2 separate regions of the Homo sapiens genome follow, and region 1 is linked to region 2. The links come from fine-mapping of genetic effects on gene expression. A gene starts in region 2. The other region holds a variant in brackets. All regions are shown on one strand. Distances are between the middles of the regions. Region 1 overlaps LDLRAP1 (low density lipoprotein receptor adaptor protein 1). Region 2 holds the start of LDLRAP1 (low density lipoprotein receptor adaptor protein 1).

What was found.
Region 1: its variant is fine-mapped to the expression of LDLRAP1 in whole blood (TOPMed, PIP above 0.99).

What each region holds. Positions count from the first base shown.
Region 1 is chr1:25,567,338-25,582,547 of GRCh38, forward strand. It overlaps LDLRAP1 (low density lipoprotein receptor adaptor protein 1), which reads left to right. Exons shown (of 9, transcript NM_015627.3): 9 at 1-1,549. Among named protein-coding and RNA genes, the nearest start is that of LDLRAP1, 31 kb to the left of the region's middle. RefSeq lists enhancers at 1-177, 178-902, 903-1,626, 6,640-7,507, 9,201-10,122 and 2 more. The variant C/T (reference allele first, on the strand shown) is at 5,260.
Region 2 is chr1:25,533,903-25,549,112 of GRCh38, forward strand. It overlaps LDLRAP1 (low density lipoprotein receptor adaptor protein 1), which reads left to right and starts at 9,704. Exons shown (of 9, transcript NM_015627.3): 1 at 9,704-9,884. The coding sequence starts at 9,797. RefSeq lists an enhancer at 9,374-9,433 and silencers at 9,534-9,993, 10,024-10,203.

The DNA.
Region 1 (15,210 bases), 33 kb after region 2:
AGGACTGTGACCAAAGCATTTCTAGTCCCTTCTCTCTTTCTAAGGACCCAAATTTCCCTGGGGGCATCCTGCTTCCTGAAAGCTGTTGGATTTCAGTGATTTTTCCCCCCACCCCCCAGCACAGGAGAGCACCCACAGCCGCAGAAGGGGAATGTGTCCTCCTGCTCTGCTTCCTCAGGGCCCAGCAGGCGGGGGTTTGAGCCCTGGACCCCAGGCTCTTAGAGACTAAGGGGCAGCTCCTGACCAAAGACGATACAGCTTGGCACTTTAAAGCATTAACAGCAGGTGTGACCCTGAGGGCTCCTCCATGGTGCTGCATTGAGTCCAGCTTTCCTTCTGCCCTTCCTCCAGGAGAAGGGGCCCAAGGTCCCCGTGGATGGTCTCCACCTGTGCTTGGAACCAGTGTAACTGGCTGCTCCCTGCTCCCAGGGACTGACACGGGGATCATCTCTGTGACCGCCCTCCGTCGGGCCCCTGCCTGCCTTCTCCCCTCCACGCAAGGCTGTGCTCTTCCTCTGGTTTCTGTGTGTCCGTTTGAGTGTCTGCGCCCCGCCTCCCCATACTTCCTGGGATGATGTGTGAAACCTGACACCTAGATTTATTTGGAAATATTCTATGACCACTTTACAGATGAGGAAACAGGCCTCAAGCGTGGAGGGGTAGAGTGAAGAGTAGAACCCAGGTCTGATGCCAAAGCTGCTTTCTTCTCTGCCTCCTCCTCACGCAACTCACACCTCCTTTTCTTCTAGCTTTGTTGTCCTCCCAGGAACCAAAAAACCCCAGCTATTTTCTGACCAAAATGTGTTTCATAACAAACCATCTGGTGCCTTTCCACACAGAACTGGCAGGAGCCTCGTGTCCTGCTAGCTGTCTCTCTTGTTGATTTCCGTGAAAATGCAAGTGTTTGAAGTCTGCTCATTCCGAGGGTGAAACAAAATCCAACCCTGTCAGAATCATGCTGTTCTCTTTGCTGACACTGTGACCCTGGGTCGGGACAGACCAGCAGCAATCTGTCTTTAGAATCGCTTTCCTTCCTCCCCTTTTGCCCCCGTGGGGCTCCCGGCATCCTGAAAGCCAGCAAAGCCTCCAGCATCTTTTCCATCCTGAGGTGCCTCCCAGTGGCCTGGCTTGTCGGAGCAAGTTTCATCAGCCCTAGGGAAAACACGGCCCTCCTGGGAACCTCCTTACCTGGAGTAACCGGACACCTTAGACGGAGGTGCCTGAGGGTGGGGTGGGATTTGCAGGGTCATTATCAGAACATGAGGATAACTTCCTTGCCCCTGCTCTGTAGCCACCTCCTTGGCACCGGCCTCTATTTGTCATAAGGCGGCGTGGGCGAGGCCTGACACAGGCCAGCCTTGGCACGAGGGGGGCCAGGGGTTCTGAGAAGCGCTGCCCTGTGAGAGCCACGCTGGCCTTCGTCTCCATCTCTGGTTGACGGGCTGTCCGTGTGCCTCCTGTGTGTCTGCAGACAAGTCTTGCTGTGCTTTATTTGTGAAACTTTAATGAGGAAAAAACAAATAATAAATGTTCTCGTTTTGAAACTCAAGCAACGCTCATCAGGTGGAGTAGACTGGCGGCAGCGTCCGGCGGCTCCTGCCCTTTGGGGATGGCAGCAGCAGTGACCACAGGCTGGGTGGGGCCGCGTGCCCAGGGGCAGCACTGAGTGGGGGTGATGGTCTTAGGTTCCTGGGGTTGAAGGCCCAGTGGGGCCCCCTTTTCACCCAGCAGCTGGGTGTGTGTGTGATGAGGTCACCTCTGGATGACTCATGGAGGCTACACCAGGGATCTGGTGCATCGGCTGAAGCGTCTGAGAGCCCCGGCGGGGGACTGTGGCCAGGCTGTGAGTCCCCTGCAGTGTGCATGAGGTTGTGTACGTGTCCACGTGGGCGTTTTCCACAGAGAGGATGTCCATTATTTCCATCACTTTTTGGATCCGCAACACTTTATCATTCCACAGACTTGCTCCGGGCTGAACGTGGACTGGGCCTGGGTCTCAGTACTGGGGACAGGGGTCCAGGCGTGGCCCAGATGAACTCAGGATGTGTGGTTTGGGTGTGTTGGGGGATGGTGGGAAGTATTTCAGTGTCTTGAGAGACTCAGGGTCTAGCCCTAGCTCTGCCACTTGGAGGCTGTGACACTTGATCAGTCACCTCTTGAGCCTTGATTTTCCCGTCTGTGAAAATGGTGCAATGACCTCCCCGCTTTTTACCACCCTGGGTTTTGTGTGACTCAGTGGTGACCATCATCACATTGTTGGTAGAACACTTGTGCATTCAGGTTATCTCAGAACCAAAGGCAACTGGAACTCAATATGTCTAAAAATGGTAAAGTAAAATAGTTAGCAACCAGTGTTAACTGAGCTCTTACTATGTGCCGGGTGTTGTGCTGAGCTCTGCACCATATTGCAACGGTTGTGCTGAGCGCAGATGGCAGATGGCATTAGCTCCCGTTACTGCTGAGGACACTGGGCTGGGAGAGGAAGGCAGCTGTGCTTCAAGTGCTGGGCGGGGCCACAGCTGAGCCGCCAACCTGTGTGGCCCTTACCCCGCCATGTCCTGGCTTCCCAGGAGCCCAGTCTGGCCATATGCTGCCCGAGACCACCTGTTGACCTGTGCGGTGACCCTCACAGAAAGGCCACTCTCTTCAGGTTCTTTCAGCCACTCTCCGGAGATTCCCCAGGCCTCTGCCCCTCAGCTGTGGCTTGTGGGGGTCCACTTGGACATGTATCTCTTTATCCCTTTGAAACTGGTATTTTAAGCGTCCAGAACCCAGAGGCAGAGCCCTCATATCAGCATCAGGCTGACTCCCTGTGAATTCTCAGTGGTTCATGGATGACTAAGAAATCCTCCCCTTTCTTCTTTCCCTCATAATCTGAAAAGACACCCAACAAGTTTATCTTTCGGTTTAAATTTGGCCAATGTCTTTAGTCTCCGGATGTCTCGGATTATGAATCCTGAGCGCCAGCCGTCTGCTCTTTCATGCATAAGGGATGAAGCCAGGGAGAACAAAGTCGCCTTTCAGATTTGACGTGACTTTCAGCTTCACTGGGTGGATGTTGGGGTCTGCTCTCCCAGGAAGAGATCCCATCCCATGTACATCTGGGGACTTTTCAACAAGCCTGGCTAGGGAATAGGGGCAGATTCACATCTGGGGGGCTGGCTTGGGGCCTGGTCTTCCTCCGGCCATTCCCAGGTGCTCATCAGAGGAGGTGCCCGTTTGTATATTAAGAAGTAACCCGGCCGGGCGCAGTGGCTCACACCTGTAATCCCAGCACTTTGGGAGGCCGAGGCAGGCGGATCACGAGGTCAGGAGATCGAGACCATCCTGGCTAACACGGTGAAACCCCGTCTCTACTAAAAATACAAAAAATTAGCCAGGCGTGGTGGCGGGCGCCTGTAGTCCCAGCTACTTGGGAGGCTGAGGCAGGAGAATGGCATGAACCCAGGAGGTGGAGCTTGCAGTGAGCCGAGATCGGGCCACTACACTCCAGCCTGGGCGACAGAATGAGACTCCTTCTCAAAATAAAAATAAAAATAAAGTAACCCTTGGGCCTGTTAGGTCTTTTGCACCTAACACTGGTGATACTAGTCCTTGCAACCTCACATGCTACCAGGTAGGTGGTCCTAGTCCCATTTTCCTGATGAGGCAGCTGAGGGTGAAGGAGGATCAACAAGTTGACCAAAGTCTCACATCCACTCGGGGATCTGGGATTTGAACCCTGCTCTCTGACCCCAGCGCTCCGGATTTCCACTGCACAGTGCCTCTCCGTGCAGATCAAGGCAAACCCCAACCGACCTGGTGTGCCCTGCTCTGCCTCGCCAGCAGCCCCAGCTACCACGGAAGACACTGGAAGCTGCTGGCCAGTGGGTGTCTCCACAGGCAGAGGCTGACTTCCTAGCTAGACACCAGAGCAGATCCCACCTCTTCCCCAGTGGCTGCCCTTTGGGGCCACTTCTCTGGACATGCCTAGTTTAGAACTCCACAGGGGTATGTCTCATTGCATTGAGACCCTGCTTTGTCCCCAGTGGCACTGCTCAGCCTGCCAGTGGGGCCCACAGTGAGCATTGGTGCCCCTCAGAGAAGGAAGCCTTCCTCTGGGAGGTGAATGCCAGCCTCGGAAGGGCAGGAAGGAGGGTGCACATCTTGAACACCAGCAGCATCCACACGTACCAGCTAGTTTAAGCTGCTGCACGGCCCCTGTGCTTGCACGTATTGTTAGCCCATTTTAGAGATGATGATACCAAGGCCTGTGGCGGTTACATGATCAGCCAGCCTCACACAGCTATTAGGAGGCAGGCCTGGGACTCAGAGCCAGTGTGTTCCCCACTGTGCTGGGTGGCCCTGCCTCTGCAGGTCACTTGGGACATTGGCAAATCAGGATGACCTTGCTTGCTTAGGAACTTCTGAACCCAGCCCAGAGTAACCTTAGCCAAGTGTCCAGCACAGAGGTACTGGATCAGATGGTGCGTTTGTGGCCAGGACAGATGTGGGCTGTGTCATGAATCCTTGTTGCCAGACAGCAATTCTGACTGCACCTGCTGAGCCCCAGCACGGCCTGTCTCAGGGTGACTGAGGCACAGCTGCTCTTGACCCCCTCGCAGTCCAGGGGTTATAGTTCATGGTGCCCTGGAAAGTCCCCGGGCATGAGCTGGGCTTGCAGTAGGCCAGCGGGACATTGGAAGTCAGAGCTGAGGTATGGCAGCTGGGGAAGCCAGGTCAGGCTCTTAGAAGAGGGGCATATTCCTGCTGGGCATCAAAGGAAGGGTAGAATGGTTGGCGACTGCATGTGCTAGCCTGGGAGCTCCCTGAGGACATGCCTGTCTGATTTGCCCCATGGCCTCAGTGCCCAGCCTAGCACCTGGCACAGAGTGGCCATCAGTGAGTCAGTTCATCAGGAGGGGAGAACAGCCTGGCTCCCATGAGAGCTGTGAGAAAGGGCAGCCCTGGCTCAGCAGGCAGCGCTGGAGTCCCTGCAGCCTGGGAGTCCACTTTGCCGGCTGTCAGACCCTTCCTGTGACAGCTCCCCAGTGTGCACTGGGTGCACTGGGCTTAGGCACTCTGGGTCTCCGTCACACACAGCCGATGGCATGGCATGCCCAGCCTGGTTTGGTAAAATGTTGTGTGGTCCACCCTCTGCCCCAACCAAGATCTTGGTTTTCATGCTGTCTTCAAAGTGAGATTCTAGAATGTTAATGCTGGGAGAGCCCCTGATGGTTCCCCAGCCCACCCACTGAGCTTATAATGGGGAGTTGAGAC[C/T]TGCAGAGGGCACAGGACTTGCCCGGGACTCACAGGCAGTTAAGAGAGCTGGGATCTGAGCTGTATTTTCCACCGACTCCATGCCCAGTCCTCCATCAACCTGGAGTAAAGGAGAGAGAAGTCCCTCCCACTCTTGCTAGAAGGGGCCCATGTGCTTGCAGGGAACTGGATGTGATGTTGGTAAGAAGAGGCTGGAGAAAGGACCTTGGTGGATTCTTGAGCATGTAATGAGCACCAGCTCATCATCCGTCTCTCCACTGTCCCCCTCAAGGACGCTGAAGTCTCATCTGCAGCTCAGGCTGCTGGCCAGACACCTAGAAGAGGGGGCATGGAGCTGCAGTTCCGAGTGCAGCCTCTGGGGCCACAGCCGTCAGGACTGGCTTTCAATCCCAGACGGCCGATTTTTAGCCGCAGAAACAACTTAGTAGCCTGTATCTCAGTCTCCTCACCTGTTAAATAGGATAAAGGTGCAGTCCAAACAGGGGCTGCTTTGCGGGGCGGGGGGAGGTCAGATGGGGGTGGGGAAGACCAGTTTCTCCCCAGGGGTAAGGCCCACCCAGGGTAGCCAAGGTGGGGAGGAGACAAGTTGTGTCTTACCAGCTCCCCTGATGCACCCAGGTGCACACTCAGGCCCCGCCACGTTGAGACCACCACATTATGCCCTCAGGAAAAACTCAACAAACTCTACTGTCTAGTGAGGAAAGCGTTGCAGTCTAGCTGTTTCCAGTAGGAAGGGATTTAGTGAAGAGCACCAGATCACAAAAGCCCTGGCAGGGCGAGGGTGCAGGTGGTCCCTGCAGGGGCTCAGGGATCTGGCGGCTGCTGCTCCTGTAGGTCCCGGTGGCTGCATCCCGGGGCAGAGCTGGCCGGAAGCTGCTGGCAAGGGAAGTTGGGAAGAGGTGGTTTGCAGGCATCAGCCCTTGCGGCTCAGGAGGGCACAGGGAAGGGAAGGGAAATGGTGCTGAGATGCAGCAGACCCCCTGGCACCCCACCACCCCAACACTGTTGGGGGGCAGGGAGGGTAAAAGGAGCTGAGGGAGGTTAGCCCGGAGAAAACCTGGCTGCCACACCTATGTCGGGAGCTATGCCGAGGCTTTGCACACGTTACGTAATCCTTAGGACAGCCATGTGAGGCCATGAACTGACCTGATCGAGATGTGAAAAGCTAGGACAGCACCCCGGGGCTATTTCACACAGGCGGGGCCTGCTCCTGCCTCTCCCTGAGCCAGGCTCATTCATCCAATGCCCAGTGATTGAGTGCCCACCACATGCCAGGATGCATGCCAGGCGTCTGGAACATGGCAGCAAACAAAACAGCAGAAATCCCCATCCTCATGGAGCTGACGCTCCCCCAAATATGTATAAATATTTGTAAATACGTAAAAATAGGTGTGGTGTAAGCACTCCAAAGGAAAAAGGGCGGTGGGGGGAAGGGGAGTGGCCTGGCCGGCAGCGCTGCTGCACCTGGGGTGGTCAGAGTTGGACAGAGTGCTGGAGGAGGTAGGGAGGCCCCAGAGAAAGGGCACCTGAGAGGGCAAAGAGCAAGCGCAAAGCCCCAGGATTGCAGTTTGGAATGTGCCAAGGGCAGGAGGAAGTCTGAGGCTGGAGAGGAGGGAGGAAGGAGGTGGACTGGGAAATGGGCTCAGAGCAGGTGCAGGCCTGGACCACAGGGCGGTGGCAAGGCTCAGACCTGCTGTGCAGGGCTCAGTGTGGGGTCTCGAGGACACGAAGGCTGCACAGCCAGGGGCAATGCAGAGACTGAGGCTCTAGGATACTGAGGCTGTCATCCAGGGTCAAGCCCAAGAGAGAGCAACCTCCGGGCTTGCAAGCGGGCAGATGGAAGGTTGAAAAGGCAACCCCATGTCCTCCTGCTCTGTTGTCTGAGCGGGGGGCTTCCAGATTTGTTGAAGAAAAGGATGTGTGCATGGCCAGCTGCCTGGGTTTGGTGGTGGTCCCAAATCTGTGTGTCGGGAGCCCTGTGGGTGTCTGTGGGCCTCTGGCAGTAGCCTGAGTCAGAGATTGGTGTATCCCCGTGTGATGTGGAGGGCTGGTGTCTCTTGGTCCCTGCCAGCCGAGCAAGAGGCTGATGCAGCGAGTGTTCTGGGCATGCTATATCATTTCTCTGGGTGTGCATGAGTGAGCCTGTGTTGGCTCCGTGGGCCTGTATGTGCCAGGAGCGTGTAGACCTGAAGGTCTGTACATGAGTCAAGGGTGAGAGGCCTGTGTGTTTCCTTGTGCGTCTGTGGGTTCCTGCTTGTCCGTAGTGGGCAGCAGTGAGGGGTGTCTTTGACTTTGGCCTGTCATTGTCTGTTTCATGCTCACTTGACATTCCACAGCTCAGCTGTAGTTCTTGGAACGAATGGAAACAGACAGCACCCAGGACCCAGTAGGACTGGCCTGTGCTTCTTGGATACTTGGGTTCAGGGTCTCCTCCCCAGCGGTCTCTAACAGCTGAGGTAGGGACGACTCACCGTCCCGGTCCCCAAATGCAGTGCTTTAAACTCAGAGACCCTTTCTTCGGGCCGCAAGGCTGGACCAGGGCTCTCACTACCCGGGTGGGAAGACTGTATGATGTTTGGGCCTTGCCAGCCCCAAGGAAGAGTCAGATCTCTAAACCTGGGGGCCTCCTGGGAAAGCCAGGACTCCAGCACTGTGGAAAGAGCATGGAGGTAGAAGTCAGAAGGACCTGGGTTCAAATCCCACTTTTGCCCAGGCATAGGGGCTCATGCCTGTAATCCAAGCACTTTGGAAGGCTGAGGCAGGTGAATCACTAGAGTCCGGAAATTTGAGACCAGCATGAGCAACCTGGAGAAACCCTGTCTCTACTAAAAAAAAAAAAAAAAAAAAAACCAGCTGTGCATGGTGGCATGCATCTGTAGTCCCAGCTACTCAGGAGACTGAGGTGGGAAGATCACTTGAGCCTGGAAAGTCAAGGCTGTAGTGAGCTGTGATTGCACCACTGTACTCCAGCCTCGGCCACAGAATGAGACCCTGTCTTACAAAAACAAACAAACAAACAAACAAAAATCTCACTTTGTCATTTCCTAGTTCAAAAACCTTAGTCAAATGGCTGCTCCGTTTCCTTATCTGTAGAGGCGGGACCGGCGTCTTGGGCCTACTGTGGAGATTAAATGAGCACTGAGTATGTGCCCAGCCCTGGGCTAAGAGCTTTACACAAACGACCCCATGGGCTTCTCACAATAACTCTCTGGAATGGGTACAGGCCCCATTTTGCAGAAGAGGAAACTGAGGCCCAGAGAGATGGCATGACTTGCCCATGGTCACTCAGCTGGGAACTAGTAGAGCCAGGATTTGAACCAGGCAGTCTGACTTCAAAAGCAGCAGCATGAGGCTGGGTGTGGTGGCTCACGCCTGTAATCCCAGCACTTCGGGAGGCCAAGGTGAGCGGATCAGTTGAGGTCAGGAGTTTGAGACCAGCCTGGCCAACATGGTGAAACCCCATCTCTATTAAAAAAAAAAAAAAAATTAGCCGGGCATGGTGGCATGTGCCTGTAATCCCAGCTACTCGGGAGGCCGAAGCAGGAAGATCACTTGAATTCGGGAGGCAGAGGTTGCAGTGAGCCAAGATCGTGCCACTGCACTCCAGCCTGGGCAACAGAGTGAGACTCCTCAAAAAAAACAAAAGTAGGCCAGACGTGGTGGCTCACGCCTGTAATTCCAGCACTTTGGGAGGTGAAAGCAGGTGGATCGCTTGAGGTCGGGAGTTCAAGACCAGCCTAACCAACATGGAGAAACCCCATTTCTACTAAAAATACAAAATAAGCCGGGTGTGGTGGCACATGCCTGTAATCGCAGCTACTGGGGAGGCTGGGGCAGGAGAATCACTTGAAACCAGAAGGCAGAGGTTGCAGTGAGCCGAGACCGTGCCACTGCGCTCTAGCCTGGTCAACAAGAGTGAAACTCCATCTCAAAAAAACAAAAAACAAAATAAAACAAAATAAAAACAAAAGTAGCAGTATGAGACGGTGAAAGGAAAGCAGAGCGCCTGGCTTTGGGTGCCCGGCCAGTGGTGGCTGTTACTACTGAGGCTCAGAGAGATGAAGCAACTTGCCACAGGCCACACAGCCAGAAAGGAACGGGGCCAAGATTCAAGGCCAATCCTAACCCAACACACCATCCACTTTATCTTTCACAGAGGCTCTCTCCCACCCCATCCGGCCTGCCCTTCAGTGGAAACTGAGATGGGGCCCAGATTTGGGGTGGGACTTGGCTAAGGTCACACAGAAGGAGGCTGCCCCTCCTGATGTGGAGGTGGCAGCGTGGTGCCATCAGGCAGAGGCACTAGGAGTGGCCTGAGACACAGACCCAAGGAGGAGCCAGCGGTGGGGTTCAGGCCTGTACCTGCTGTCTCTAAGAGCAGAGGAGCTTCTGCCCGGTGCAGGGAGCCTGGGGCGGCTCTCCATGGCGATGTTCCTGCGAGCGTGGCAGTCGGTCCTAGCCCCACTTAGTCACCCCAGGCAGCAGAGACCCTGTGCCATCCCCGCATTCACCTCCTGAGAAAGATCGGGAGGAAGCATGTCCTGAACGCTGCTTTATTGCAATAAATTTGTGGAATCAGCTCATTACATTTAATTAGAATTATTTAATTAGAATCTTAATAAAAGAGTAGAGCAGGAAGGAGGCTGATGAACGGAGCTGAGGAGAGCCTTGCTGAGTGTGAGGAGCAGACCCAGCTGGGAGGTGGAGTGGGGGAGGGGCTGCCAGGATGCGAGCCTGGATGGCTAGGCAGAGGGGACGTGCCAGGACCACCAGGACCTGGGCTGGGCTTTCCCTGACCTGTTCCTTACCAGGTGGCCCTGTGGGCAGGTCCTGGGCTGGTTTCCTGCCCTCAAGGAACTCGAGGTTCATGCAGGGAACAGACGAGGAGCCAGACAGTTACCACGCCCAGTGCAGGAGGCAGAGTCACATGCCAGCCAGAGATGAGCGTCGAGCCTGGTGTGCGGTTAGGAAGGCTTTCTACAGCAGGGAGGCCTGCGGTGAGACCTCACTGTGTTGAAGTTAGACGAGGAGGGGAAGGGCTCCAAGCAGGTGTGAGGGAAGGCGGAGCATTTGAGGCACCTGGCGGGGACAAGACAGGGTGCATAGCAGAGGCCTGGCGCCGGGTGGCAGGCTCAGGTCCCGGCATCACCGTGAGTTGGCTCTGGCAAGTGACCTGGGCAGGTTATGCCACCCTCGGAGCCTCATCTTCCCCATCTGTAAATGGGGGTGATAGTGGGGCTCTTGTGTGGATGAGAGGAGCTGCAGAGAGCACTTGGAACAGTGCCTGGCCCACGTCAGTGCGTGTGCACCAGCTATTGGGACTGTTGTTAGGATTGTCGCAGTGGAGGTCTCCAGCAGGTCATCAGTTACACAGGTCGGGAGCTCAGGGGGCATCTGGGCTGGGGACGTAGCTCTGTCATCAGTGAAGCGGCAGGTGTGGGTGAGCCCCCCACCTCCATTTGCTCTTTCCTCATTCCCTGAAAAAGACAGTTTTGTTCAGAGATCTCACCCCAACAGGGCTCTGGCTCTTCAGGGAACACTGGGAGAGTTATTTCCTCTCTCTCTCTCTCTGTCTCTCTCTCCTCAGCACACAAAGAAGCGGGTGACCGTTGACTAAAGACAAAAATCAAGCTTTTAAAGCATTAAAATTAGTTTTATACAGAAGTCTTGCTGATGACTATAGACAGAGGCCTACGGCCCTCAAGCAGCCCTCCAGAGAGGGTTTGTCAGACAACTCCGGCACGGCATTTGAGCCCACTGCTGATATGCAGCTGGTGGAGGTTCGGTAGTGCAAAATCACATTGAAATTTGGGTGCAGGAGTCCATCTGGTGATAGATTACAGAGGCATCATCACTAACCCCGTTAGACATCATTACCTTATGTGTAGGAAAAGGCAAGGACTAGGATCGTTTGTCTTTTTTTTTTTCCTTAAGACAAGGTCTCACTCTGTCGCCCAGGCTGGAGTGCAGTGCAGTGGTGTGATCATGGCTCACTGCAGCCTCAACCTCCCCGGCCCAAGCGACCCTTCCACCTCAGCCTGTTGAATAGCTGGGACGACAGGCACACATGCCACTGCACCTGGCTAATTTATATATTTTTTGTAGAGATGAGGTTTCACCATGTTGCCCAGGCTGGTCTCAGACTCCTGAGACTCAATCAATCCATCCACCTTGGCCTCCCAAAGTGCTGGGATTACAGGTGTGAGCCACTGTGCCTGGTGTGGGGCCATTTATCTTTTAAAGAATATAGTGACTCAGGTGAGAGACGTGAGGGTTTTGTCTTTAAAGCATCTTTCTGGAGAGCTGTACGTTGTCACAGAATCAGGGGCTTGTGAAATTATGCTGGCATGCAGAAATGAGAAACATGGCTTCTTAAATTTGTTACTTTGTCTTACGTGACCCATGCTACCCCTTCAGAGGACCAGATCTGGGATGAAGCTAACAGTATGCAGTATGCCACCTCTCCATGTGTTGTTTAAAGCCTTGACTTGTAGCGCTTGTCGATTTCCTAGTATAAATATGGCCACCATGGCCAATGTCAGGCTACCAACATGACATCACTTAACCTGGAGTTAAGATGCACACAGTCTGTTCTTGCAAGGCAGAAAGACCCAGCTCCAGCACCCCACTCGATGAGGCCAGCCCTGAGAACAGCAGAGCTGGGAGTGAAAAGCACCTGCACACAGATCTGCACCAGGATCCACCTCCACGTGCGCAGCTTTCTGTTACTTGAGGCCAAATGCGTCCCACACCCTGCAGGGCTGCAGGGCAAGAAGAGAAGAAAACCCAGGAGCAACCCAGAGGAACTGATAGGATTTAGGCAGCAGGCAGAGGAAGAGGAGGCGGCGAGCTCAGCTGCCGCTGTCACGTGGTGATGCTAAGGGTCAGATTTTACATTTGGTTTTTCACAGACTTAATCCTGCTGCCATCAAAGATAAGAGAATTGTTTTCAGCACAGTTATAGAAAGTTCCTAGGCTCCAGTCCATGCCTTGAGCCAAGAATGTAGGGATTTAAGCTTGTTATTCTTTTTTCCTTGAATCGCCCAGTGCCACAGAAGCAGCTACCCCATCTCTGAAATCTTCGTGCCATTCATGTGTTCAATAGCAGTGTCGACTCAGACCCTCGAAGCTCTGCCTTCAATGGCACTTTTTTCCCAGATGGCCACAGGCCATAATTTAATTAATTAATATAACTTAATTAGCTGTTTCACCACTACATTACCACAGCTGCTAGATTCTCATCCCTGAACGCTAACTGGATTTTCCCTTCCTTCAGCTCTGACTAGACCAGATCATCATTTCCCCAAGGGTATGGAGCTCGAAACCCACCCCCTCCAACCAATTTCCAAACCCGCCAGGTTTCTGAGTTGAAAACAATGGAAACTGACCCTCGCTAATTTAAGCAGAAAGGAACTTATTGGAAAGACACCAAGGAGCTCAGGCAATCGGCTGGAGAAGTGGGCTCAGAGAGAGAACAGCTGTCGAGGGAGGCTGGCAGTCAGGACACAGGCAGGGTGTCCCTACAGAAGATGTCTGCTTCTGTCTGTTCTGTCTGTTCTCCGCAGATTCAGGGTAGGCTCCTGGTGGATGGAGTCGGTGTCATGCCTGCTCCTAGCTGACTAGGGTGAACATCAGCTTCTGCATGGGAAGACAGAGCTGTCTCCTGTAAGGTTCACTAGGCTCGAGGCCGGGCACAGTGGCTCCTGCCTGTAATCCCAGCACTCTGGGAGGCTAAGGAGCACCACTGCACTCCAGCCTGGGTAACAGAATGTCTCTAAAACAAAAAAATTAAATTAAAAAGGGGGTTTGAATGCTGAGTGAGAAAAAAACAAAACAAAACCAAAAGCTAGAAATTATTCACCTTGGCTAGACACTGTGCTAACATTTTGGCTTCATTATCTCAATTTAATCTTCACAATTATTATTATTTTTGAGACAGGGTCTCACATTGCCCAGGCTGAAGTGCGGTGGCACAATCACAGCTCATTGCAGCCTTGACGTTTCTGGGATCAGGTGATCCTCCCTCCTCAGCCCCCCAAGTAGCTGGGACCACAAGTGTGAGCCACCATACCTGGCTAACTTTTTAATTTTTTTTTGTAGAGATGGAGCCTCACTACATTGCCCGGGCTGGTCTCGAACTCTTGGTCTCAAGCAGTCCTCCTGCCTTGGCCTTCCAAAGTGCTGGATTACAGGTGTGAGCCACTGCACCTGGCCCACAATTATCTTTCAAGAGGTGTTGCTTTTATCAACCCCATTTTATAGATGGGGACCAGGCTCTGAGTTTCTTCATCAGTAGTAACCCCAGGCTTTGGGGTACTGTGAGAACCCGGCAGGACACCATGAATCCCGGAAGGCTCAGAACCAGGCTCTGGAGGAGTTTCCCTAAATTGAGGCCAGCCTTAGTCTGTTGGCCTTAGCAAAAGCAGGAAGGGCCTGTCTAGACTGAGTACTTCCTAATTCTAGATGTTACTGCCATTGGCCTGCTTGGGGGCCGGTCCTGGACCAAGAGGGTGCCGTGCTGGGCTGGAGAGCTTCTCACCAAAAGCAAATGGGGTGTGAGGAACATGTGTTCTCTGCCGGGCCTCAGCACATGGGCATTCTGTCGTGATGCTTGCTGTAGCCAGCAGCCTGGGGCGGGGGCACTGCTGAGTAAACTAGGAGGGCAGCTGAATTCTGAGAAGCAGAGAGGTAGGTATGGGCCCCTGGCCTCTTGAGCCAGGGAGAGGAGAGGGTTTCTGAAAAAGAGAGATACCAAACAGGGCCCAAGCACTGACACAGGAGACTCCTGTGATGGTTCAGGTCTCCCCCATCAGACCAGGAGTTGCTGAATCCGGGGTGGTCTGTTTCCCTCTTCAGGCTGGAAGCTCTGAAGGGCAGAACTCTCGCTCCTCTGACACATCGGGAGCTCCTGTGTGCAGGGCCCTGTCTCCCACCTTGGGCTGAGGCTTCTAACGGCAGGGCGTCTCTTCCCTCCAACTAGGGCACCTGAAGGGCTAAGTGTTCCAAGACAGCAGTGTCAGCAAAGGCTGCGCAGATTTGAGGAGTGGGACCGGCAGAGCTGGATGAAACCTGACTATGCTGAAGGGGAAATGGAGACCCCGGGAGGGGCAGGGACCTGCTGAGTGCCTCCCCCAGGCAGTAGCTGACCTGGACCGCATCCCGGTACTCCTGCTGAGGTAGGAGGATTTGGGGTAAAGAGACAAAGTGTGGCCTTAGGAATACAGCCCCCAGAGCCAGGCAGGAGGGGGCAGCCCCGTAGGGCTCAGGTTCAAGCATGAGGCTGCCAATACTGCCCCTTGGAAGCGCCTCTGTTGTTCTGTCCTGGATGTTTGAGTCCTTGGCCAGCTTCCTGGGCAACGGCCTCATCCCGCTGAGATGGACAGATGTGCACAGCTGGGGGAGGGGCTTGGTGAAATCCAGCCCCACCCAGCGCAGGCCTGGGCTTCCCAGGGGTGGAACTTATCTGGGTTCTGGTCCTGATCTCTGCCTTGGCCCTGTTGTGCAGCCCTGGGCAGTGCCATGGCTTCCCCTTGGGCCTCAGTTTTCTTGTCTCTCAAATAAGGGAAGCTCTTCATTCTTTCATCAGACATTGACTGAGTTGGTACGTCCTTGGCCCACTGACTCCAATATTTGGGGATGCATTATCTGGTTCTAAGATACTTCCCCCGCTCTATTTTAAAATTTATTTCAAAAAATTATGGTAGAATGGTCTGGGCGTGGTGGCTCACGCCTGTAATCCCAGCACTTTGGGAGGCCAAGGCGGGCAGATCACTAGATATGGAGATCGAGACCATCCTGGCGAACACGGTGAAACCCCGTCTCTACTAAAAATACAAAACTTAGCTGGGCATGGTGGCATGCACCTGTAGTCCCAGCTACTCAGGAGGCTGAGGCAGGAGAATCGCTTGAACCTGGGAGGTGGAGGTTGCAGTGATCCGAGATCGTGCCACT
Region 2 (15,210 bases):
TCATCTTTGTATTATGCAATGTCAGTTTACAATGCAAATATCAGAGCCTTTAACTTGTGTGTGGAATCACAGAAATTACTCAATTTTTCTTTCATGGCTCATCCCTGAGGGTGCCTCAAGCCGGCCAGAAGAGACAGACATAAGTCAGATGCAGGAAGATTGGAAGGAGGAAGAGGCCATCCCCTCAGCACAGGTGAGAAAGTGCTTCTGGGCACAGGAAGACTCATAAAGACCCTCATAGGTGCCCAGGGGCGCCACCCCACAGTGGAGGACACGCCCACTCTCTGGAGCCTGACAGTGGTCAAATTGTCCACGTGAACCCTACTGTGAGCACTCAACTCTCCCAGGCTCCCCTCTAGACAGACACTGGACTGATGCAAGGTACGCCGGGTGTGAGTAGGGTGTGTTGAAGCCAAGCCGGGCCTCTCCTTCCCACGGGTCCACTTCCCCAACCCTTGGCAGATGGGCCACCCCCAAGGGTCTTTAAACCTCCATGCCAGGATGTGCTGAGTCCCTGGATCAGTGTCTTTCCCCCGCTGAGATGTGGCCTCTAGCCAGCTACCCACCAGATGTGCCATGGTGCTGCCAGCCCAGGGTGGGGAGAGCTGCTGCCATGCCCTGCCCCAGATGACGAAGGGTGTGTGCACCTGATTCCAAACCATCCCCCCTCCCCCATGCCTGGGCCCAGGGTCCTGCCTGGCACAGGAGACAGCACAGCTGCAGAGTGGAGCTAGGCATAGGAGGCGAACAGGTGCTAACAGAAGGGGAGCAGCAGCGGAGCTGGCACACACTTAAGCTGAGGCTCTAAAGACTCTAGGCATGCTCCACTGTCCCATCAGACTTCATGTACAAAACACAAATTCAAAGATGAAATTATGAAGAATTGGCTGGGTGCGATGGCTCACGCCTGTAATCTCAACACTTTGGGAGGCCGAGGCAGGCAGATCACCTGAGGCCAGGAGTTCATGACCAGCCTGTCCAACATGGTGAGACCCTGTCTCTACTAAAAACACAAAAATTACCTGGGTGTGATGGTGCGTGCCTGTAGTCCCAACTACTGGAGAGGCTGAGGCAAGAGAATTGCTTGAACCCAGGAGGTGGAGGTTGCAGTGAGCTGAGATCGCGCCACTGCACTCCAGCCTGGGCGACAGAGTGAGACTCTGTCTCAAAAAAAAAAAAAAAAAAAAAAAAGAAGTTATGAAGAATTGCAGGACAGTAATGGCAGATGCCAAGTGGGGACCCTTCTGAGCCTGGGAGATAAAGGGGTCATAGGAAAGGAGGCTAGAGGAGGTTGTGCACAAGCTTTCTTTGATCCCCATTGTGACCAGGTTTAACTTGATTCGCTTGCAACAGCTGTGGGGACAGGGCTATTGCAAGTTGGGCCCTGTGGCCTGCATGGCTAGCACCCTCTTGCCCAGGCCCCCAAGAACCACTGATGGATGGATCTGCCAGGCCCCTTAACCAGCCTCTGTTCTTCCTTCTGCGGGAGGAGACAGATGAACAATTTCACAGCTTTTATCTCAGAAAACAACGGGGCTGGAGGCCTAGGGGAGCGAGATGAGCGAAGGCCTCTGTGTGGGGCATGACTGACCCTATGGCCCTTCCCTGGGTGGCCCTCAATGTGCTGGCTGGGCAGAGGGCATGGGAGGCAGCCGGTCCCTCAACCAGGACCCAAGCCTGCTCTGGTTCGTCTTATGCTCGGCATAGCCACACCCGGAGGGGTGCGGGAGCCAGGTGGCTCAAATGAGCATGTTGTTCAATATTTAGCAGTTTTGCAAGATGGTTATTAAACTTCTGGTAACTTGAAATTGGCCGTGGTGGGTGTATTTGCATCATGGAAATTGGCAAACAGTACAAATCAGAAATTGGGTTAATCAGCACGCCACCGACAAGGTAGCAAGCTGCCAGCACCATGGGGCAGGGAGCACCCAGAGACCCACACTCAACGCATGGCTCTGTGCGAGCCCTGGGCTGGGCACAGGAAACATCTAGGCAAATCAGACACTCTCAAGTACGCCTCCTCTCAAGTAGCAACCAGCCTAGTAGGGAGACAGAAAAGCAATGTGGAAAGTTATGAACCAAAGGGATACCATTGACAGCAGCTGTCGTATCTGAGGTCTCTACCGTGTGCCATGGTGCTGGAAACTTTTCACGTATCACCTCTAGACTCCACTGCACAGACGGGAAAATGAGGCTCGGCAGTATTAAGTCACCTGCCCAGGATTGTGCAGCTGGCAAAGTCAGGTCTGAAGCCCACATTGTTCTGACTGCTGAGCCTGTAGCCTTAACCATAGCGATGTCCTGTCCCCACACATGCTCCATGTGAAGTATGGAGAAGGGAGCAACCCCACCTGGGGTGAGTGCTGGAGTGGCATTGGGAAAGGCTTCCCAGGATTGGTGACATTTAGTCTGGGCTTTGAAGGATGAATAGGAGTTTGCCAGTTGGAGGGCAAACTGGAGAAAGGCATTCCAGGTAGAAGGAACAGCAAAGGCATGGAGAAGTAGGAGGACACAGGAAGTTTAGGGGAAGGGGTTACAGGGTAGTATCACAAGGCTATGTGGCTGGGGAGGACGAGGGATGGGAAGGTGGGTGGGGACTTCAGTGAGAAGGGCCTCGAAAGCCAGGCTAAGGGGTTTGGTCTTTATCTCACAGGCTTTGGAGAAGTTGAAGGTTCCTGGAAATCAAACCCTGGAACTATATAGATATTATGGCAAGATTGCCACCAATGTCTGTTTTATGAAGTCCACTAAGTAATGCTTCTCGAAGCATCAGTGGAGCAGGACCATTTTTAAAAGAATTTCTCTTCTGTCACAGACCAATGCTTTTGTAAAATACAAGGAAAACGAATTACTAGAAAAATACAATAAAATGACGAAAAACACAAGCCTAATTTTAAAAATGAGATTCAACAGACATAAAATTACTCTATCAAATTGCTCTAAAAGTTCTCAACCCTTAATATCTACACTCTCTTTGATAGCATTGGGCTTGTCCAGAGGTCTCTTTATAGGCCCAGATTCAGAACACATGCAGGTTGTCCTAGTAAGAGCTAAGTGCTCTCAGGCGAGTCCCATTTTAGAGCTGAGGAACCTGCTGCATGGAGACGGTAGGTAGGTGGGCTGCCCACGATCACACAGCTGCTGAGTGGGGCTTGGGACTCAAACCTGAGGCTGTCTGCCTTGTACTCAACCAGTCTGGAAGGTGCAGCAGACCCCTTAGCAGAGTCCTCTTTGGCCTGGCCCCTTCACTTTGTCCCTCCTCCTACCTCCTTTCAGCACAAGGTCAAGATCCCTGTAGACAGAAAAAGGGAAATAGAGCCAACTTAAGAAGGGAACTTCCTTGCCCAAAGTGCCACTGCAAGAGGGCGGCAGAGGTGGCCAGCCCCCAGGTCTCCTGACACCAGCCTGTCCTCAGTCACACCACTCTGCCTGCCTCCATGTCTATGCAGTGACCTCCAGGCCAGACAGTGCCAAGGAGGACGAGGGAAGCGGGGGCAGGAGGCAGGGGACTCATCAATTGCTGGCAATTACACGGTGCTTTGTCATTCTTAATTAGCTCAGTGGCTCCACAGCCTAGAGATCTCCCTGTGGATGCTAGGCTGGGGGAGGAGACAGCTGCTGGTCCCACCACGGAGGGCTATTTGGAGGGGTAGGTACCGAGGAGCTCCCCTCAGCAGCACCTCCCCAGCCCCATTAGGGGCTGCTGTTTCTCATCCTTCCTCACCCACTTGCCAGACACTATAAGAACCAGAGACAGAAATTAAGCCATTGGATGTGTATGGGGCATCTCCTTTGTGCCAGGCACTGGTCAGCAGCTCTAGGAGCCCCTGGAATGAATGCTGATTTCCAGCCCCCATGCTTGAGGCACGCCCAGCTGCTGGAAGAGGCAAACAGGCTCACCATAATCATGATAATGATAACCAGAGTTACCCTTTAAAAAAAAAGTTTATCTTCATTTTTATTTCTTTGAGACAGTGTCTCTGTCGCCCAGGCTGGAGTTCAGTGGCGCAGTCTCAGCTCACTGCAACCTCTGCCTCCTGGGCTCAAGCGATCCTCCCACCTCAGCCTCCTGAGAAGCTGGGACCACAGATGTGTGCCACCATACCCGGCTAATTTTTTAAATTTTGTTTTATAGAGACAAGGTTTTGCTTTGTTGCCCAGATTGGTCTTGAACTCCTGAGCTCAAGCGATGATCCACCCACCTCAGCCTCCCAAAGTGCTGGGATTACAGGCATGAGCCACCGTGCCCAACCCTGTTACCATTTACTGAGCGCTCGCCACACGCCTGGCACTAGACTAAGCATTTTCCATATATTATCCCACAGAAGGCTTACAAAGCCCTCTAAGGTAGGTATTATGCCCACTATACAGATGAGGAAACTGAGGCTCAGAGATAGCTAAGGTTACATATACATACATGGAGGATTTGTTTTAGAGCCAAGGTATGTGGAGCTCCAAGGTCTAACAGTTGTTTAGGAGTGTGTGTGTGTTGGGGAGAGAATACTGGTGTGTGGGTGGCTGTGATCATGGGTGTTAGGGAGGAGGCCAAGTAGCTGTTCAGGGCAAAGGTAGAGAGGCCAGGAGAGTTGAAGCAGTCTGGCTGGATGTTCCTGGAAGAAGCAGCTGCATGGGAAGGGTCTGAGGGAGGACGGGTTCAGAGGCAACTGGTTGGGGTGGTCAGGTCAGCGGGCACAGCAGGCAGGAAAGGCCCTGCATTTGGGGTAAAAGGTCAGAGCCCTGGGGCTTGTGACTCACCGGTAAGTAACCCAGGCTCCCTCTGACTCCCTAGGAGAGTACTGTCTCCGACCTGGGCCCCAGCTAGGATGGGGCAACCCTACCCTGTCCATTGAAGGTGTGATGTTAGCCTGCCTGCCCCTCAGACTGGGCTATGCTGGTTCCAACCCGGAGAGAGAGCTCCCTTCCCTGGGGACCAGCCAAGAATTATGATATTCATAGGTACTCCAGCCATGTCATCTTCATTGTTCACCCAGTTAGGAAAGCAATTTTAGTTTTATTAAAATATGCGGCTGGGCATGGTGGCTCATGCTTGTAATCCCAGCACTTTTGCAAGGCCGAGGCAGGCGGATCACGAGGTCAGGAGTTCGAGACCAGCCTGATCAACATGGTCAAACCCCTGTCTCTACTGAAAATACAAAAATTAGCTGGACGTGGTGGTGGGTGCCTGTAATCCTAGCTACTCAGGAGGCTGAGGCAGGAGAATCACTTGAACCTGGGAGGCGGAGGTTGCAGTGAGCCGAGATGGCACCACTGCACTCCAGCCTGGGCAACAGAGCTAGACTCCAACTCAAAAAAAAAAAAAAGATGGAGCTAGACTCCATCTCAAAAAAAAAAAAGTGTATATATATATATATATATATATGCAACATATACATCACTTACTATATGCCAGGCAGAATTCTAAACATGTCACAAACATTAACTTTTGTTAATGTCCCAGCCTGTAGGTGGGACTACAGGCGCCTGCTACCACACCCAGCTAATTTTTGTATTTCAGTAGAGAAGGTGTTTCACTATGTTGGCCAGGCTGGTTTCAAACTCCTGGCCTCAGGTGATCCACCCACCTGGGCCTCCCAAAGTGTTGGGATTACAGGCGTGAGCCTCGGCACCCAGCCTACATTAACTTTTAATCCTCATGATGACTCCATGAGGTGTAATCCCCATTATTCTAGTCTATTCAGGCTGCTCTAATAAAAATACCAAAGGCCGGCTGCCTTATAAACAACAAAAATGTATTTCTCACAGTTGCAGATGCTGGGAAGTTCAAGTTCAAGGTGTTGGCATATTCGGTCTGGCGAGGGCCGGCTTCCTGGTTCATAGATGGCTGTCTTGTCACTGTAAGAGTGAACAGGGCCAGGAATCTCTCTGGGGTCTTCTTTATGCTCATCCCATTCATGAGGGCTCTGCTTTCATGAAAGGATTACCTCCCAATGGCCCCATCTGCTGATACCTTGAAGGTTAGGATTTTGACATACGAATTTTGATAGGACAGAAACATTCAGTCCATTGCACCAATTTTACATTTTAGAGGAAACTGAGGCCTGTGGAATTTAAATAATTTGCCTAAGGCCATGCAGTAAAGAAATAGGGAAGCCTGGATCCCGGGATGCAGCATCAGTGTGCTTCACTACTGCGCTCTGGTGTCTTCCACTAATAACTCCCATTTTACAGATGAAGAAACAGAGGAAGGGATTGGCTCAGGGAAGTAGGGAGGACAGACCACCTGAGGAAACCAGGGACTCTCATCCCAGCTTAGGCTTTTGTCTTGGTCCCACTGCAAGCCCAAATGATGGCTGGAGAGAGGCTGACAGCCCTGTCAACTCCTTGGCATCCACTATCTCGCTGGGGTCCTGTGGGTCCACTGAGGAAGAAATTAGTAAGATTGTAGCTGATGCCATTTGACTAAAGACAAAAGCCATTTATTCTTATAGGTAGCTCCCCGACCCCGTTTATTGTTCTTTTTCTGATTACTAAAGGAACATGATCACTGCAGAAATGTTTACAAAGTTAGAGCAGATAAACAGAAAACCAAACAAAAGAGAAAAGAAAAATCCCCTTTCAAGCCCCTCTTGAATCTCAGGACTTATTTTTTTCTTTTCTTTTCTTTTCTTTTTTTGAGACGGAGATTCGCTCTTGTCGCCCAGGCTGGAGTGCAGTGGCGTGATCTCGGCTCACTGCAACCTCTGCCTCCTGGGTTCAAGCGATTCTCCTGCCTCAGCCTCCCGAGTAGCTGGGATCACAGGCATGCGCCACCACGCCCGGCTAATTTTGTATTTTTAGTGGAGACGGGGTTTCTCCACGTTGGTCAGGCTGGTCTCAAATTCCCGACCTCAGGTGATCCGCCTCAGTCTCCCAAAGTGCTGGGATTACAGGCACGAGCCACTGCACGCGGCCCTACTTCTTTGCCTCCTCCTCGTTGTTATAAGCATCCAAGGTGGGAGGCAGGAGACCTGGCATCTGTTCCTGGCTTGCTGTGTAACCTTGCGTAAGTCCCTGTCCCTCTCTGGGCCTTAGGCTCCTCATCTGTGAAATGAGGGTTTGGCCACAGTGACCTCAGAGGAGGCCACTCGCAGCTCTGACCTTCTGTTTCTGCTTCTGTTTCTGGGATTGGCAGAAGGGGCACTAGCAGGCTGCCCCTCTGCAGGGGACACATGGCTGACAGCTCGCAGCAAGCCATCTCCGGGAAACTGCAAAGGCTGGTAAACAGTTCTCGTTGCACACGCAGCGTTCCCAGGCCTTCCTGCTTATCAGGCCCATATGGTGCCCCCTGCCAGCCGGACACCACCAGCTGCCCTTGGCCAGTCTGCCCTGGGTGATCACTTTTCCTCCCTGCTTCAGAATGCTCTCTCTACTATTCCAGAATCTAGCTGGCTTGGGATAAGTGAGCTGGGGGCACTCAGCCCTGTGGACCCATCTACCTATTGCCACAGCCCTTTTGCAGAAGGCAGCCTGGTTTGGTGAAAAGCTGGAGAAAGGGAGAAGGGGAGGAAAGGAGGGAGGAAGGACAGGAACACTGACTGTGTTCCAACTCCATTTGGACCCCTTACTAGGCATTTGGGATTCAGAAATGAATCAGAAAAACTTCCTGCTTTTGGAGGGTACAAAGTCTAATGGAGATGAGAGGAGTATAAACAGGCAGCAGTAGTGCTTGCAATCCTGAAAGTTCAGGACTGTGGGCGCCCACAAAGAGAAACTTAATCCATGGGTGGTAGTCAGGGAAGCCTTCCTGGAGGAGGCAACTTTAAAGGTGGGTTCTCAAGAACAGGATTCAGCCATTCCAACTCCTGTTATTTAGTCCTTAAGGACAGCCCTGTGAAATAGATATAGTTGTCCCTTTTACAGATGAGGCTCAGAAGGGTGAGTTCACAACCACCAGAAGGACAGCTGGGTTCTAACCCCTGGCATTATACTCTACCCCATTGCCTATGGGCCTGAGTCTGATCCCAGTCTCTGACTCTCGGAGACTATCAGTGAATGCTTCCCTCCCTGACCTAGGGCTGTCATCTGTAAAGTGGGTCCACCTAAGCAGTGTTGCTGGGGAAGCCAAGGACAGACTGGCTAACAAAGCACTTGGTTTATAAACAGGGGAATGTCAGTGAGGCCGCCCTATCCAGCTGGGGACAGCACAGCACTATCTTTCTCCCGACACAGAGAGGACTGCTGGCTTCTGAGCCAGGAGTAATTACAGAGGTTGAAGTTGGCCTTGCCTGAGGCACCCCCTTCTAAAAGAAGCCAGGCTGTGGCTTGGATGTGTGTGTCCTCCCTCTGGCTCCTTTTGGCACAGTTTGAAAGGAAGGCATGGCATCCTAGAGAGTTAGAACAAATCCTTCCAATCCTGGAGTTAGAACATCTGTGCCTGAGCAATTCTGGGGTTCAGACTGCCCTCCGAATGCTCCTAGGAAGCAGCTTGGGGTCAGGGTCAAGGTCATGCAGATTCTTGACCCTGGCAGGTTGGAAGGATCACTAGAGATAGCATTGACTCTCATTCACAGATAAACAAGACTCAGAGAGGGGAAGTACTTGCCTGAGGTCACACAGCAAGTCAGTGTCAGGGGCACGTTCCAGATCATACCATCTGTGAGGCTACCTGGGAAGTTGCGGGGGCATGGGGTGGCCCAGCATGCTCAGGTGGTGCCAGGGAGCAGCCTGGGAGCTACGAGGATGAGTAAAGTGCCTGGCTGGACTTGCTAAAGGCAAATTTTTATATACCGACCCTGCGCCTAACAAGGGTCTATACTGCAAGCTTGTCCAACCTGTGGCCCACTGGCCATGTGAGGTCCAGGACGGCTTTGAATGGAGCCCAACACAAATTGGTAAAGGTTCTTAAAACATTATGAGATTTTTTTGGGCAGGGTGTGGTGGCTCACAGCCATCCCAGCACTTTGGGAGGCTGAGGCGGGCAGATCACTTGAGGTCAGGAGTTCGAGACCAGCCTGGCCAACATGGTAAAACTCCATCTCTATTAATAATACAAAAATTAGCCAGGCATGGTGGTGCATGCCTGTAATCCCAGCTACTCGGGAGGCTGAGGCATGAGAATAGCTTGAACCCGGGAGGTAGAGGTTGCAGTGACCCGAGATCGCACCACTGCACTCCAACCTGGGCAACAGAGTGAAACTCTGTCTCAGGGGAAAAAAAACAATACAGAAAAACAAAAAACATGAGTGTGTGTGTATATATATATATTTCAGCTCATCAGCTGTCGTTAGTGTTAGTGTATTTCATGTGTGGCCCAAGACACTTCTTCTTCCAATGTGGCCTAAGGAAGCCAAAAGTTTGGATATCCCTGGCTTACAGCCTCCACTATTTCCTAAGTCTCCCACTGCCCTGGACATCGCATTGCTTTTGTCCCTGAACAAGATCTTTCACCACTGGAGGAGCCCTCAGTCTCCCCATCTGTAAAATGGTCACTGGAAATCCTAGGCCGCTGCTCTCAGGCCCTCAGGCCCCTACGGGGTGGGGATTGGGGAAAAGGAGGAAAGCGGGGGCGTCTAGGGCTTGCGATTTGCTATCTTCTGGCGCCTTCGGGCGGCCTCGGAAACTCTTGGTGCCTGGACCTGGAGCCTGGACAGGGACCGGGCGGGGCGAGACCGGCCGTCGGGGGCGCGGCCCGTCTGGGGGCGGGGCCTGTCCTCTCTCGCCCCGCCCCGTCGGACGCCGCGGCGGAGCTGGCGCTGGGAGGGGAGGAGCGCGCAGCCCGCGCGCCGCAGGGCCGGGCGGAAAGTTTTTCCTGACGGAGTTTTGGCTGCGGCAGCGGCGGCGGCGGCCGGAGCGGGCCATGGACGCGCTCAAGTCGGCGGGGCGGGCGCTGATCCGGAGCCCCAGCTTGGCCAAGCAGAGCTGGGGGGGCGGTGGCCGGCACCGCAGTGAGTGTGCGCGCGTCAGCCGGGCCGGGCCGGGATCGGGCAGAGGCGCGCGGGGCCTCCGCGGGCGCCCGGAGTGCGGCCAAGTTGGGCAGAGGCGGGGCCTCACCGGCGCTCCGGTCCCGGCGTGGCCCTTTCCCGGCCCTGCGGGGCAGGGGGTCGGCCGGGGTCAAGTTGTGCACCTACTCGCCGGCCGCTCGATGCCGCTGCGAGGAGGGGCAGCGCTGAGGAAGGAGCCCGAGCTCGGGGTCCTCAGGTGCAGCCGGCATGGGGTGGGGTGCAGGTTGGGAGAAGAGGCCCCCGCCACCCGCGGCACCTCCCGCCCTGCTGTCCTGGCCAGCTAGGGGGAGGCAGGCGCTCGTCGTCGGTGCCTAGGGGAGGAGGAGAGGGCGCAGGGGCTTGGGAAGACGCCCCCGTCCCGCACCCCTGCGCCCCAGCCAGCAGCTGCGGCGGTCAGGAGCCCACTGGCCCGTTCTCCCGCCCCCTGCCCGACCCACCGGGCCAACTTTTGACTCCGGGTGCCCAGACACCCATCCAGGTGTGAGCCCGGGGTCGCAGGTACGTACTTGAAATTGGGAACGAGGCCCCGCCTGGGGTGCCTCGGGAGAGCCCCACATCAGGCGATCTAGACCCTTACGTCCCTTCCTCTAGCCGGGTCCAGGTGGCAAGCCTGGCGTCCCGACTATTTTTGAAACCTGTTTTCTCTCGCACCTTTCCCCTCGGGCTTCCAGAGTCCCTTGGGTGCCCAGGCAAACGACAGACTCGCCGCCACCTCTCCCTGGGGCGTCTGGGAGGCTGGGAGGGGCCTCCCCCCCTTTCTCTCCCCCAGTCTCTGATTACGCTCAGGGAACTTGTCACCTGGCACCTTCCCCTGAAGCCAGAAGACCCAGCCTAGCGCAGGTCTCGTTGTTTGGGAGGGAGAAGAGAGTGGCTTGCCTGGGGTCACACACACCTTCCTGCTGGTTTTGGAGCCAGAGCCCAGGACTGCTGCACACTCCCACCTCCCTGCCACCTACTTCGGGCCACAGCTTCTCCCCTCATCAGGAAACAACTGACAGTACAGCACCCCCTCATCCCATCCCCTCTTGGCCTTACAGGGCTCTGCCAGGGGAGCCCGAGCTCCCTGGTCCAAGGAGTGCCAGCGTGTCTGGGCCTAGAGGGCCCGCCTCCCTCCTCCTCTGGCCCCACTCTGTTGTTCAGCTGTGGCCGCCTCCCAGCTGAGACTGGCATTGGCATTGGGAATGTGGGGTGGTGCCTGCTGGTGGGGGGTGGGGTCAGAGACCCATTAGGGCTGGGCCACTAGGCCAGGGGATGTACCGTTTATCACACTGATTGCATCCCAAAATAGACCCTTTAAAAACTGGCAAGATTTGACCAGGACTTCTGAGATGGCCATCTGTTCCAGTGGGAGAATCCTGCGGGTTTTCTCCAGGAATGAGGGAGGGAGGGTGGTGGGGCAGCCCCCAGGGAAGTGGTTTTGAAGGAAGGGGGGCTGGCAAGGGAAGGGAGGCTAGAAAGAAATATCTCTGAATCTGGGGACGTGGAAGAGGTAGCCGCTTTGGATGTGGAAGAGAATTTCTCTTGCCATCTTCAATCTTGAGCAAGTCACTTGTCCTTTCTGATCCTCGGTTTCCTCATCTGCAACATGGGGATAAAAACTCTTACCTGGCAGGAGTATCAAGGAGATTATTGGTAATAATGCTCCCTCCTAACTGGTGGCTTTCTTCTCCCCTGCTCCTCTTCCCCCTGCCTATCCTTGGGACGCTGCCAGCATGATTAGTACTGTGGTGAGATGGGTTTTGGGGGCCCCGAGCCTGTCTGCACCTTTGGAGGAAAGGAGAGGAGCACCTCTCCCCCTCCTCCAGGCCCTGGTAAGCCCAAAGTGCTGTCCTGGAGCCTCTGGATCTGAAGGAGGGCAGGCCGAGCCCCACCTGTCCCTCGTGATGAAGTCTCAATTTCCTCACCTGTAAATTGCAAATAACAGTAGTACCTGCCTCCAGCTGTTTGTGGGGATCAAGTGGAATTGCGTTTGCCTGGCATAGAGGAGGAGTTTGGTAAATGGTAACTGCTGCTTTTGTAACTGTTTTACAACCTGTTTTTGCTTCCATTCTCTCATTGACTCCTGTGAGGTGACAGAGCAGACCCATTTTAGAGACAAAGGAACTGAGACTCTGAGCATTGGAGTCATTGGCTCCAGACACAGAGCATCTAAGAGGCAGAGCTCCACATTCCTAGCGCAGGGGTCTTACCAGTGTGCTTGGTGAACTCTGCCATGGGAGGAGCTGGGAGCAGGCCCCACCTACCCCACGCTGGGCTGGCAGCCTCTGACAGCAGTGGCCACAGGTTAGAGCAGGGGCCATGGGGTATGTGGGGGTGGGGGTGCTAGGGTCACCTTGCTCAGGGTTGTGACCCAGCCTGGCCTTGGACCTGGTCCCTGTGGTTGAGTTTTGAGGCCAAACTGAAGCCAGTGGAGTTAAAGTTAGACTCGAACCCTGCTCTCAGTTGTGACCTGCTCCTCCTCCTCAAGGTCCTCACTAGGATTAGCATGAGCATTGCTTATTTGTGGAGAAAGAAGCCCAGAGAAGGGCAGCACCTTGCCTGAGGTCACACAGCAAAGCCAGCACCCCAGGCTTCTTTCCACCCAGCTTCATGCCTGCAGTGGATTCCTGGTTGTCCTGACCTTGAAAGAGGGCTCTCTTCCTCTCCCACACATGGCTTTTCCTATCCCCTGGGGAGACATCAATATTTTATCTCAGTCCCTGGCCAGGCATTTTCCTTCCAGCTGCCTGGAAGAGGGGCTCACCTTGGCCCCTCAGCACTCTTTCCAGAGGTACTGGGATCATTCAGGCCCTCCGGTTATTTTGTGGGTTGTGCTTACCCAGAGAGAAGGGGTGAAGAAATAGGAGGTGCAGGTTCCAGTAAAGCTAGTTCATGGTGGAAGGCAAGGGAGGGAGGATATAATCATATTTATAATATTTATAATAAAGGATATTGCAAATGAATGTGGCCCAACACAAATTCATAAACTTTCTTATGGGTTTTTTTGTGATTTTTTTTTAAGCTCATCAGCTATCATTAGTATTAGTATATTTTATGTGTGGCCCAAGACAATTCTTCCAGTGTGGCCCAGGGAAGCCAAAAGATTGGACATCTGTGGCTTACAGTCTGGTGCACCACAACAAGGGTGTAGATCAGTGGTGTGGTTGTGGACATTGGTAGCAGGACAAATAAAAATAAAGCAGGGTGAGGAAATGATGGGACAGCTTTGTAAGATAGGATGGTGTCTTCATTTGGGTTCCTCTAGAGACAAGGATTGGAGTGCAAGTCATTTATTTGGGACAAGATGGCAGGAAATATTGTTAGGACAAGTGAGAAGGGAGGGGAGTCCACAAAGTGGGCATTATAAAGCAAATTACCAGCAGGGCGCGGTGGCTCATGCCTGTAATCCCAGCACTTTGGGAGACCAAGGTGGGCAGATCACCTGAGGTCAAGAGTTCGAGACCAGCCTGGCCAACATGATGAAACCCCATCTCTACTTAAAATATAAAAATTAGCTGGGTGGGGTGGTGCAGGCCTGTAATCCCAGCTACTTGGGAGGCTGAGGCAGGAGAATCGCTTGAACTTGGGAGGCAGAGGTTGCAGTGAGCCGGGATCACGCCACTGCACTCCAGCCTGGGGGACACAGTGAGACTTTGTCTCAAATAATAAATAAATAAATAAATAAATAAATAAATAAATAAATAAAGCAAATTACCACCAGGGACTCCTGGAGCTTAACCCCGCTGTGGGAACTGTGGGAGGCAGTGTAGAACGTGCTCTTCAGAGCCGTTCCACTGGAGGGGCAGTTCCCGGAAGCCCGGTGGAGAGGACTCCTGGGGTCGGGAGATCTTCATTCCCCAGTCTGCGCCAGCCTCAGCATCTCCAGCAGGCAGAGTGGCAGGTACTGGCAGTCAGCACAACATGGAAATGGTGTGCAGGGAGGATAAGGGCGGCCACTGACAGCACCAGGGAAGGTCCCTCTGAGAAGGTGACTCGGTACACACCGGTGAATCCCAGGAGGGAGGAGTCTGGGAACAGTGTTCCAGCTAGAGGGAACAGCAAGTGCAGGGAATGTTGAACTGGAGGCTAGGACTCTGCTTCTCCCGGGTCTGGGGGCTGTGTGAGGGGCATGTGGCTTGAAGGAGTCAGAGGTCACCCACTGCCCACTGAGGGTCAGATACTCTTTTTGAGCAGCCCTGCAGGGCTCTGCCTGACCCCAGCAAGGGGCTTGGGCTGCAGGAGGCAGGTATGGACTGAAGTCCCAGTGCTGTCAATTATGAGCCATGGTCAAACTCCTCTGAGCTTCTTTATCTGTGAAATGGGAACACTGATCTATCCTGGACTCTTCTCTCAATATGAGAATGGTCATGGACACGTTAAATCTCTTTGCATTTGACCACTGTAATGACAGTAGCTCACACTTGTGATACTTGGTATGTACCAGACAAGCTTCTAAGCTCACCTCGGGTGTGAACTCAGTTCATCCTCAAGACAACCCCATGGATGGATACTCTTTTTTTTTTTTTTTTTTTTTTTTTTTTTTAAGAGGGAGTCTCCTTCTGTTGCCCAGGCTGGAGTGCAGCAGTGGGATCTTGGCTCAGTGCAACCTCCACCTCCTTGGTTTAAGTGATTCTCCTGCCTCAGCCTCCCAAGTAGCTGGGATTACAGGCGCCTGCCACCACACACAGCTAATTTTTTTGTATTTTTAGTAGAGACAGTGTTTCACCATGTTGGCCAGGCTGTTCTGAACTCCTGACCTCAAGTGATCCACCTGCTTTGGCCACCCAGAGTGCTGGGATTACAGACATGAGCTACCACGCCTGGCTGAGGTGGATACTCCTATTGTCCCTGTTATTTATTTATTTATTTGAGACAAGGTCTCACTCTATTGCCCAGGCTGGAATGCAGTGATATGATCATAGCTTACTGCAGCCTCGACCTCCTGGGCTCAAGGGATCCTCCTGGGTAGCTAGAACTACAGGTGCACACTGCCACGCCCAGCTAATTATTTTTTGTAGAGACGAGGTCTTACCATGTTGTCCAGGCTGGTCTTGAACTCCTGGCCTCAAGCAATCCTTCCTTCTCAGCCTCCTAGCACACTGGAATTACAGGCATGAGCCACTGTGCCTGTCTTGTCCCTGTTTTAAAGTTAGGACACTGAGATCCAGGGAGGTTCAGTGACTATGAACTCCACAGCCCATAGCATATTTTTCTCTTACTGTGTAAGTAGGTACTTAGGAAATGGTAGCTGCTGCAATTTGTCATTTTAAAAATTATTTTCTTTTGATAA